2 separate regions of the Homo sapiens genome follow, and region 2 is linked to region 1. The links come from fine-mapping of genetic effects on gene expression. A gene starts in region 1. The other region holds a variant in brackets. All regions are shown on one strand. Distances are from middle to middle. Region 1 holds the start of SLC5A11 (solute carrier family 5 member 11). Region 2 has its middle 69 kb from the start of SLC5A11.

What was found. PIP is the estimated chance that this variant, and not a neighbour inherited with it, causes the effect. A credible set is the group of variants that fine-mapping cannot tell apart.
Region 2: its variant is the best candidate, but not a certain one, in a credible set for the expression of SLC5A11 in whole blood (TOPMed, PIP 0.58).

Annotation. Positions count from the first base shown.
Region 1 is chr16:24,843,718-24,849,089 of GRCh38, reverse strand. It overlaps SLC5A11 (solute carrier family 5 member 11), which reads right to left and starts at 3,127. Exons shown (of 17, transcript NM_001352248.3): 1 at 3,078-3,127; 2 at 2,652-2,858.
Region 2 is chr16:24,912,773-24,918,144 of GRCh38, reverse strand. No RefSeq gene overlaps it. Among named protein-coding and RNA genes, the nearest start is that of SLC5A11, 69 kb to the right of the region's middle. The variant A/C (reference allele first, on the strand shown) is at 3,152.

The DNA of each region.
Region 1 (5,372 bases):
GCACCTCTATGTGCCAGGCACTACATCTAAGCACCAAGAGTGCCTGGTATGTAAATGTCTCATCGAAGAATTTATAGCATCTCTTTCTCACCTCCCAGAATCTATTCACTCCCAATTCCATTCTCTCTTACTTCCAAAACATAATAAATCCACACATTTTCCCTCATTTTTAGTGCTATCACCCTTGTCTGAGCCACCATCACTTCTGTCTAGGTTAGAGAAAGACCCTCCAGTCTTACCTCCCCGATATCCATTCTTCCTTCCTTTTTATTTTATTATTTTATTTTTGTTTTAATTTACTTAATTTTTAGAGACAGGGTCTTGTTCCCTTGACCAAGCCGCAGTGCAATGGTGCCATCAGAGCTCACTGTGGCCTCAAACTCTCGAACATCTGTGCTCAAGGGATCCTCCCACCTCCGTCTCCCAAGTAGGTGGGACCACAGGTACATGCCAACATGCCTAGCTAATTTTTTATTTTTTGAGACAGGGTTTCACTCTGTTGCCTGGGCTAAAGTGCAGTGACACAAACACAGCTCCTGCAGCCTCAACCCCATGGGCTCAAATGATCCCTGCACAGTGCTGGGATTACAGGTGTGAGCCACCATGCCTGGCCTCCAGCTAACTTCTTATTTTGTAATTTTTTTGTAGAGACGGGGTCTTGCTATGTTGCCCAGACGGGTCTCAAACTCCAGGCCTCAAGCAATCCTCCCAACTTGGCCTCCCAAAGCACTGAGGTTGCAGGCATGAGCCACCTCACCCAGCCTTGCTTCCTTTTAATCCGCCCCTCACACGGAAGCCAGAGAAATCTTTAAGTATGAGTCAGATCAGATCATTTTCCTGCTCAAAACATCTCCATGCTGCTGGGGTGCTTTGTTGTGCTTCCAACCCCACCACATACTAGCATTCATTTTATTCCTGGAACACGATTTCTGGCCTCAGGGTCTTTGCCATTCTGTTCCCTCTGCCTGGGATGCTCTTCCCTGCACTCTTTGCTGGACAAGCTCCTACTCATCCTTTAGATGTCAGCCTGCTGTATATCCCCAAAGGAGCCCCCTCTTGGCCTCAATATAAATTGGGTCCCCAAGCTTTTTGCTTTCATGGCAAACACAACTTCTCATCACAGTCTAATCAAGTGTAACACTTGATGTGTGTGATTACCCCTTGTCTGCACTGCACAGCAAGCCCCATAAAGAAAGGTCCATGTCTCTGTCACTCTCATTGTGTCCCCAAAACAGGCATGCAATAAATGTTGGTACAACAAATAAATGTGGGATTTTTAGAGCCTTTGCTATAGATCCTTTGCACGCTGTGACCGCCCAAAAAAGGGACAGCATTTTTCCAAGTCCTATCTGCAGGATGCCCAATGGGCTAGGACACTTCTGTCAACTATTGCCCAGAATAATTCAGCAGAACACCATTTGAAAACCACTGATTGGTAGGGTGCAGTGGCTCATGCCTGTAATCCCAGCACTTTGCAAGGCTGAGGCGGGAGAATCGCTTGAGTTCAGGAGATTGAGACCAGCCAAGGCAACACAGGGAGACCCCATTTGTACAAAAAATAAAAATAAAAAAGTTAGCAGGGCATGCTGGTGAGCTATGATAGTACTACATTTCAGCCTGGGCAACACAGAGAGACCCTGTGAAAGAAAAGACAGAAAAGAAACGAGAGAGAGAGAGAACAGAAAACACACACAGAGAGAGAGAGGAGGCAAAGAAGGAAAGAAGGAAGGAGAAAGGGAAAGAAAGGAAGAAATAAATAATAAAAGAGAGAGAAGAAAGAAAGAAAGAAAGAAAAAAGGGAAAAGAAAGAGAAACAGAGAGGTGGGAGGGAGGGAAGGAAGGAAAGAAGGAAGGAGAAAGAAAGGGAAAGAAAGGAATAAGGAAAGAAATAAAAGAAAGAAGGAAAGAAAGAAAGAACAAAGAAAAGAAAGGAAAAGAAAGAAAAAGAAAGAAAGAGAAAAAGAAAGAAAGGAAAGAAAAAGAAAATCACTGATATTGTGGCTGAGCTCATGGCCACAGGAATTGAGTCTTGGCTTGGCCACTCACTATCTGTATTACCTTGAGCAAGTTATTTAATGACCCTTAGACTCTGTCCATGAATTAGGGGGTGCTGTACCTACCTTACAGGGTTTCTGTGTCAGTTAGATGAGATCCAGGCGTAAAGTTCTCTGCACGTGTCTGACACGTACCAGTGAAGACTTGTATTTGCCTTGTAGTTAACAGCAGCTGCAGTTGTAGTAAATACATTCCTATAGCTTTTTAATGCTTATGTGGATACATTTACCTTCGTTATCTCTGGGTAACACACCTGTGGGGTGGGTCAGCCTGAGGTTCATATTCCCATTTGACAGATAAGGAACCTGAGACTCGGTGAGGCAAAATGTTTGGCTCAATGTCCCTGACCTTGGTTAAGTGGAAGAGCTGGGACCCACGTACGGTGCTGCTGGCTGCCGGCTGCTGGCTTCATACCACCATGCCCACCCCACAAACACACTCCATTGTCCTGGTGTATGACAAGCTTTCTCTGCAGAGAGGGCTGAGCTTCCCCTGCCCCACAGGTGACAGCTGGAGTCCTTCTGCCAGCACCTGTCCCCAGACCAACTTCCCAGTTTGGAGAGTGGCTACCTGTTTGGGGGCAGGGGGTGTCTTACCTTATTCCAGATGCAGGGCTCACCTGCCCTGGGGGCTGTCAGTGGCTTCTAAGGCACTAGGAGGTGGCGGTGGTTGTAAGGAGGGAGATACCCGGGATCCTCTCTCTTTGCAGCCAAGAGCTTCCGGAGACAGCAGTGACCCTTCCTCCTATATGCCCGCTGCTGAGAGAGCCTCCAAGCGGGTCAAACTCCAAACTCCAGCCTCAGCTGCAGCGGGGATTAAAGGAAGCGTGAATGATCTCCCCAGGGCAGAAGAGAGAACGGGGCCCAGCCCAGGACCCTTGAACTCTGAGCAGGTGGGGAAGGTGACATGTCCCACGCTCTGCCCACACCGTCCTCCACCAGGGTCCTCACCTGCGTGGGGACCCATGGCATGGAGGGGTTGGGGAGACGCTGGAGCCCAAGGCACCATCCTGCTTCACTCACCCAGTCTTCCACTGTCCCGCCTCCACGCTGGGGACAGGCAGGCTTGGGACGAGCTGGAGGAAGGGGAGGGGAGGAAAAATGCTGGCGGCGGATGGAGGGGACAGAGGCAAAGTGCCAGGAGGGACGTCCAGCCACAGCCCTCACCGCAGTGGCAGCAACAGGAACAGCAACCATTGCTTGTGCAACCCCTTTCCATATACTCTTCAGACAGAGGCATGGCAAAGAACAGGTGTCTGCCTGAAGTCGAGAGTTCGAGACCAGCCTGACCAACATGGAGAAACCCCATCTCTACTAAAAATACAAAGTTAGCCGGGTATGGTGGTGCATGCCTGTGGTCCCAGCTACTCGGGAGGCTGAGGCAGGAGAATCACTTGAATCCGGGAGGCGGAGGTTGTGGTGAGCCGAGATTACACCATTGCACTCCAGCCTGGGCAACAAGAGCGAAAATCAGTCTCAAAAAAAGAAGAAGAAGAAGAAGAAGAGGTGTCTGAGGCCCTGAAAAACCGTCAGGAGTGACCGAGCCATGGCCAGGCGCCCACATCGGGCCCAGGACATCAGCGGGGCATAGCGAAGATTTCTGCCAGATGCTCAAAGCATCCAAAACTTTATTTACTTTTTATTTCTGAGACAGGATCTCACTCTGTCACCCAGGCTGGAGTGCAGTGGTGGCATCACAGCTTGCTGCAGGCTCATCCTCCTGGGCTCAAGTGATCCTCCCACCACAGCCTCCCGAGTAGCTGGGACTACAGGCGTGCACCACCACACCCAGCTAATTTTTTCATTTTTTTGGTAGAGAGAGAATCTTGCTATGTTGCCCAGGCTGGTCTCCAACTCCTGGGTTTAAGTGATCCTCCCACCTTGGCCTCCCAAAGTGCTGGGATTACAGGGGTCAAACACTGTGCCAGGCCAAATACCAAAACATTTTAAAAATAGTTACTAGTATTTGCAAACCAAGAGGCTTGAAACATAATTCTAGAATACTCACTTTTCTAGAACAACCTGAAGATCTGGCCTCACCAGGCCCCCATGGCCACAGGACAGCTGCTGACTGGGGAGGAGTCGTGGCCTCCCCATCTCACTCCTTCACTGGGCCTGCCAGGCTCTGGGGGGCCCTCAGCTGAGGCCCCTGTCCTGGCACCGAGTAGCCAGAAATAATAGCAGTGATGAACACGTGCCAGGCTCTAAGGGCACAACATGCCTTTACTCACTTGGTCTTTCCAACAACCCTCGAAGTTAGGTCCTGTTATCTCTATCTTACTGACGAGGTAACAGAGGTAGAGGAGATGAGTCATCGGCCCAGGATCACCCGGGTTGTAAGTGACACAGCAAGATTTCAGCCCAGGCCACCTGGCTCTAGAGTCCTGCAGGAGCAGTGGAGGGTGGCTTGACTGGATAAAGGGTGGCCTGGGTGAGCAAACACTGGGTGACTGACCAACACCAGTATGAATGGGGCCTTTGGGGGAGGGACCTGCCCTGGGGGACAGATTTACAGAAGGAACAGCTGGGATTGGAGAAGAGGGACAGACAGAAGGCCATGAATCTGTGATCTGCAGCAGAGGCCACAGCACCAGGAAAGGCAGTGGGGTGCCACCGAGGGTGCACTGCTTCGCCAACCTGGGGTCCAGTCCTGACTTCTTGGGAATGTCTGGGGAGCCTTAGCCATGTGCAGGGTGTCTACAGAAGAGGCGTGGTAGTGAGTGAAGCCGGGCAGGTGGAGCTGAGGCTGACCCGAGAGCATGTGTCCCAGCTGAAGAGGACAGCCACGACCCAGCTCCACGTGGGGGAAGACAGGCCCAATGGGGTCAGAACTTCTGATTGTTCTAGAGAAGTTCTGCAAAGTTTCATGATTACGCATCCTTGAGGGCCAGATGTGGCCTGCTCGACCCTTGGCTTGTCACCTCCGATTGTTTCTCTGTCAGGTTTTTCATTTTTACCCTCAGTGCTATAAAGAATAGGAGAGGTGGAGTGCAGGGGCTCATGCTATCATCTCAGAGCTTTGGGAAGCTGAGGCAGGAGGATCTCTTGAGGCCAGGAGTTAGAGGCCAGTCTGGGTAACTCAGTGAGACCCTCATCTCTACACAAAATAGGAAGAATTAGATGGACATAGCAGTGTGCACCTGTAGTCCCAGCTACTCAGGAGACTGAGGTGGGAGAATCGTTTGAGCCCAGGAGTTCAAGGCTGCAGTGAGCCATGATAGTGCCACTACACTCGAGGCAACAGAATGAGATCTCAATTCAAAAAAAAAAAAAAAAAAAAAAAGAACTGTATAACCACTTTAGAGAACTATTTGGACA
Region 2 (5,372 bases), 69 kb before region 1:
TCCATGTTGAGCACCTTCTCCAGGCGCCTGGCTGTCCACGGTCAGGTGTCTCCATGGAGCCTCGGAGATGCTCCCATCGTGATGCCTGAGCTTGTCCTCCAGAGGAAGCAGGGACTTGGGCGCTTGTCAAGGAGATGCTGTTGGCACCTGGGGATGAGAAACATCCATGCTGACATCCTGCCCAGCATATAGCATGTGTTCATCATTGCTGATTCTGAAATACAGCAAACCATACCTCATTATTTTAAGAGCCTCATTCAGTTTTTACTCTCCTATTGTTTGCAGCAATCTTCCTACCCTGACAGCTGCAAACTTCAAAACAATGAAAGTCATTTGACTCTGTGTATGTGTCAAAGGTAAAGACCACACTTTGGGAGGCCGAGGCGGGCAGATCACTTGATGTCAGGAGTTCAAGACCAGCCTGGTCAACATGGTGAGACCCCATGTCTACTAAAGATACAAAAAATTAACTTGGCATCGTGGTGGGTGCCAGTAATCCCAGCTACTTAGGAGGCTGAGACAGGATAATCACTTGAACCTGGGTGACAGAGACTACAGTGAGCCCAGATCAAGCCAGTGCACTCCAGCCTGGGCAACAAAGTGAGACTCTGTCTCAAAAAAAACAAAAACAAAAAAAACCCAGAACTGTCTAGGGTGGGATACATGGCTGAGCATCCCACCGGCAGGGCCAGGAGAGGCACCTGGATCCTCTTTCCCGTTCTGTGGCCCGGGATTCCTTCTGCTGGAGGCGTTGTACTGTGTTGGCACTGTACGTTAGGCACACCATTTCCAGCCTGCCCACCGTCAGAGAGGCAGAGAATCTGAACCCATAGTGGCCATTTCTGGCTGTCCAGAAGGGCACTGGCCATCTGCCCTTCAGATTGTTTCCTTCCCTTCTCTACACAGTAGTTTCTTATAGAATGTTCTAGGCCCTTGCGCTCAGACTTCGTGTCCCTGCTCCCCCACCTGCACCAAACCTCCTTGGTCAGGCACCGGTTCCTCTCACTACCCCCTGTGGTTTAGCACTCACCTAGCATTCTGGAAGGAGCTTGTCCTGCACCCAGCACTGTGGAGACTGCAGAGGCTCAGAGTAGAGCCCTGGCTGCCTTGGTTTTGCCGAGTTCCACCCTGTGGTCATTCCAAGAGTTCAGATGCGCTGGGTGTGGTGGCTCATGCCCATAATCCCAGCACTTTGGGAGGTCGAGGTGGGTGGATCACGGGGTCAGGAGTTTGAGACCAGCCTGGCCAACATGGCAAAACCCATCTCTTCTTAAAAAAAAATTATATATATGTGTGTGTGTGTGTGTGTGTGTGTGTGTGTGTGTGCGCGTGTATGTGTATATATATATATATATATATACACATACACACAAAAAAAATTAGCCAGGCGCAGTGGCTCATGCCTGTAATCCCAGCACTTTGGGAGGTCGAGGTGGGCGGATCACGGGGTCAGGAGTTTGAAGCCAGCCTGCCCAACATGGCAAAACCCCATCTCTTCTAAAAAAAAAAATTATATGTGTGTGTGTGTGTGTGTGTGTGTGTGTGTGTACACACACACACAAAATTAGCCAGGCGCAGCGGTTCGTGCCTGTAATCCCAGGACTTTGGGAGACTGACGTGGGTGGATCACTTGAGGTCAGGAGTTTGAGACCAGCCTGGCCAACATGGTGAAACCCTGTCTCTACTAAAAAAAAAAAAAAAAAAAAAAAAAAAAAAAAAAAGGCTTGTGTGGTGACACGCGCCTGTAGTTCCAGCTACTCAGGAGTCTGAGGCAAGAGAATTGCTTGAACCTGGAAGGCAGAGGTTGCAATGAGCCAAGATCATCTACTGAACTCCAGCCTGGGTGACACGAGACTCTGTCTCAAAAAAAAAAAAAAAATTCAGATGCCATTGGAGTGACCCCATCCCTGGACCATTGTGATGGCCCTGGTTCTCTGGGAGCTCCGTGGAGTGACTCCCGCTCCTCTGTTGGGGCTGCAGTTCTCAGTGTCTCCCAAGCCCAGTGAGTCCCACAAGTGCTCCTATTTGAAGGTCTTAAGACAAACCCTCCTGGTTTCTCCCTGAGGTCTCCTCCCACGATTTCCTCACCATATTCCAGTGCCTCTGGCCTCTGGGACCCACGGTCTCAGGGTTTTGCATCAGACTGGGCAGCAAGCACCTCACTCATAGGGATGCTTCTCAGTCAAGGGCTTGCACTTTCCTCCTATCTCATCGGTGGAGCTAGAGAGGAGGAGATGTGCTGGTGCGGGGAAGCCACAGGCTCTGGTGCAGCCAAAAGACAAGAAGTGACCAAGACCACTTGAGCTGCCAGCTAAGGGAGGGGAGCAAGTCAAGGACCCCCTTAGTTTCCCTCCTGCCCACAGCAGGCTGCACACATGGCCATCCCCACCCTGTCCCGCATGGGTTCGCACAGGCATGGGCCCTGAGTCTCTTCCCCAGCAGGCAGGACCCCTGTCTCCCGGCACGGAGCTGTGGGTGCCCTGCCACCACCGTGGATTCTGTGGAGTAGAGAAAACCTGCCTGCAGAGGGAGAAGTCAGCAGATGTGCGGAGAGGCAGGGACAAAAGATAAGAGGGAGAGAGTGCAGGGCTTGGTTTTTAAAACCCTCCCAGCTCCCGGTTTGTGTGCCTGAAGCCATTCTGCATTTCTTGCCTTTGTATGCTCACAATAAAGTGCTTGTTTTTGGCACAAACGTTCCTCTTTGGGTTTGTTTCTCTTACTGGCAACCAAATTACTTGTACTCGATACCCTCCAAAGGAGGTACATGGCTGTGTAGACCCCACACAGCTCTGCAGGCAACTGTCCTCCTCCCACACCCTCTCCAGCCAACCCCTCCTTTACATCCACACATGCGTTCACACACCATGCCCCTCATGTCAGTTATCCAGTGCAGCATGACAGATGATCACATACTTAGCAGCTTACAACAACACATGTTCATTTTCTCACAGCTCCTGTGGGTCAGGAGTCCAGGCACAGCTTCTCTGGGTCCTCTGTCCAGGATCTTCATCTGCTGCAGTCAAGGCAGCAGCCAGGGCTGGGATCTCATCTGGAGGCTGGGCTGGGGAAGGATCCACTTCCCAGGAAGTAGGGATGATTGAGGGTCACCTTAGGGTCTATCCTTCACACACGAAACATCATCACAAATGAC[A/C]TGTGGGGAGGGGGATATTTGATACAAGGAAGAACCCCAACCTAAAAAAATCCTCAGGGTTCTGTTTTCACTCTTTCTACTTGTATTTGAATTTGGGGTTTTTGGTTGTCATTCTATTTGTTTAAGATGGAATCTTGCTCTGTCACCCAGGCTGGAGTGCAGTGACATGATCTCGGCTTACTGCTACCCCTGCCTCCCAGGTTCAAGCCATTCTCCTGCCTCAGCCTCCCAAGTAGCTGGGACTACAGGCACCCACCACCATGCCAGGCTAATTTTTTTATTTTTAGTAGAGATGAGGTTTTGATCTGTTGGCCAGGCTGGTCTTGAACTCCTGACCTCAGGTGATCCACTCACCTCAGCCCACTGAAGTGCTGGGATTACAGATGTGAGCCACTGCACCTGGCCTGAATTCAGTTTCTGTGCACATCTGTAAATTGTATTTGCACTGCACTGGTTTTTTAAATTGATAAAAGTTATGGTATACGACATGTTTTTGTATATGTATACATTGCAGAATGGTTAAATCTAGCTAATTAATATATCCATCACCTCCATTATCATTTATTTTTTGTGGCGAGAACATTTAAAATCTCTCAGCTGGCTGGGCACAGCAGCTCACACCTGTAATCTCAGCACTTTGAGAGGTTGAGGTGGGTGAATTGCTTGAAGCCGGCAGTTTGAGACCAGCCAGGGCAACATAGTAAGACCCCATCTACATAAAAAAATTAAAATTAGCCAGGTATGGTGGCCAAATGTCTGTAGTTCCAGCTACTCAAGAGGTTGAGGCAGGAGTTCGAGGGTCCAGTAAGTCATGATCATGCCAATGCACTCCAGCCTGGGTGACAAAGTGCAAGACCCTGTCTGTAAAAAAAAAAAAAAAAAAAAAAAAAAAAAAAAAGGCCAGATATGGGGGCTCACACCTGTAATCCCAGCACTTTGGGAGGCCAAGGCAGGTGGATCACATGAGCCCAGGAGTTGGAGACCAGCCTGGGCAATATGGCAAAATGCCTTCTCCACAAAATACAACAACAACCAACAAAAATTGCCAGGCATGGTGGTGCGTACTTGTAGTCCCAGCTACCCAGGAGGCTGAGGTGGGAGGATCACCTGAGCCTGGGAGTTTGAGAATGCATTGAGCCATGATCGCACCCTGTGTTCCAGCCTGGGCAACAGAGTGAGAGCCTGTCTCAAAAAAAAAAAAAAAAAAAAAAAAAAAAAGGAAGGCAAAGGATTGCAGAGTTCATCCTGAGTGGGAAGGTCTCTGAAGGATTCCAAGCAGAGGATTGGCTTGATCCGAGTTGCTCACCCTGCCAGTGGCTGGAGAATGGGAAGACTGGATGTGAGAAGGCAGTCAGGAGTCCGGGCAGAGATGGGGGTGGCCTGAGCTATCATAGTGACAGCTCAGTGCGTCCCTGCTGAAACACACTGTTGACCCCAGCCAGAGGCAACAGGGGTCTTGGTGTGAGGGGCAGGCTTGGACGGGGAGCTCAGGACTGTAGTGGAAGCCTCCCATGCCGCCCACTCCCCTTCTTTGGGCCTTGGAGGCAGAAGCTCAACCTCCCCGGTGAAGACTTCTCCTTGAGCCCACTTGCTCCAGAACCATTCCACGCTCCTGCCTGGAGCCATGTTAGCAGCCAGTTCCCCGCCCATACCCCTTCCCAGGAGGGCTGGGGGTGCCCTTTGTCCAACCTACTACTGCTATTTGGATTCCTGTAGAGAGCTGGGCCTATGAGCAGAGCTGAGGCTGGACCAATACATTATTTGCCTGTGCACCAGGCCAGTCCTAGCTGTTGGCATCAAGTAGGAACCAGAAAGACATCATCACTGGAGGATTAAGTGGGTGGGCAGCTCCTCAGCCCCAGGGGGTCCTGTTTACTTTCCTCTGGTCTGAAAATTGGGGTCCCTCGAGAGACTCCTCTGCTTTCCAGCTCTGTCAGGCCAGGAAGGGGTTCTAGTCCACCCCACCTTATCCCAGGCCTGGATGGTTCATGGCCCTGAGCTACTCCAGAGATGGTCTCAGGGCTCACTCCGTTGGCCCTGTCCTGCTCTTAGCTCTGCACGTGGCAAACGCAGCCCTGATGGGTCATTCCGTCAGACTCCAGTGGGCCCAAAGCTGGGAAGCTGAGGAGGCTGGCTCTACCCAGAACAGGAGGCCGCTGCTCTGCAGGTCAAAGCCTTACTGGCTTTTGGTGGGGAGGTTCATTGAGATGCACATCCACCT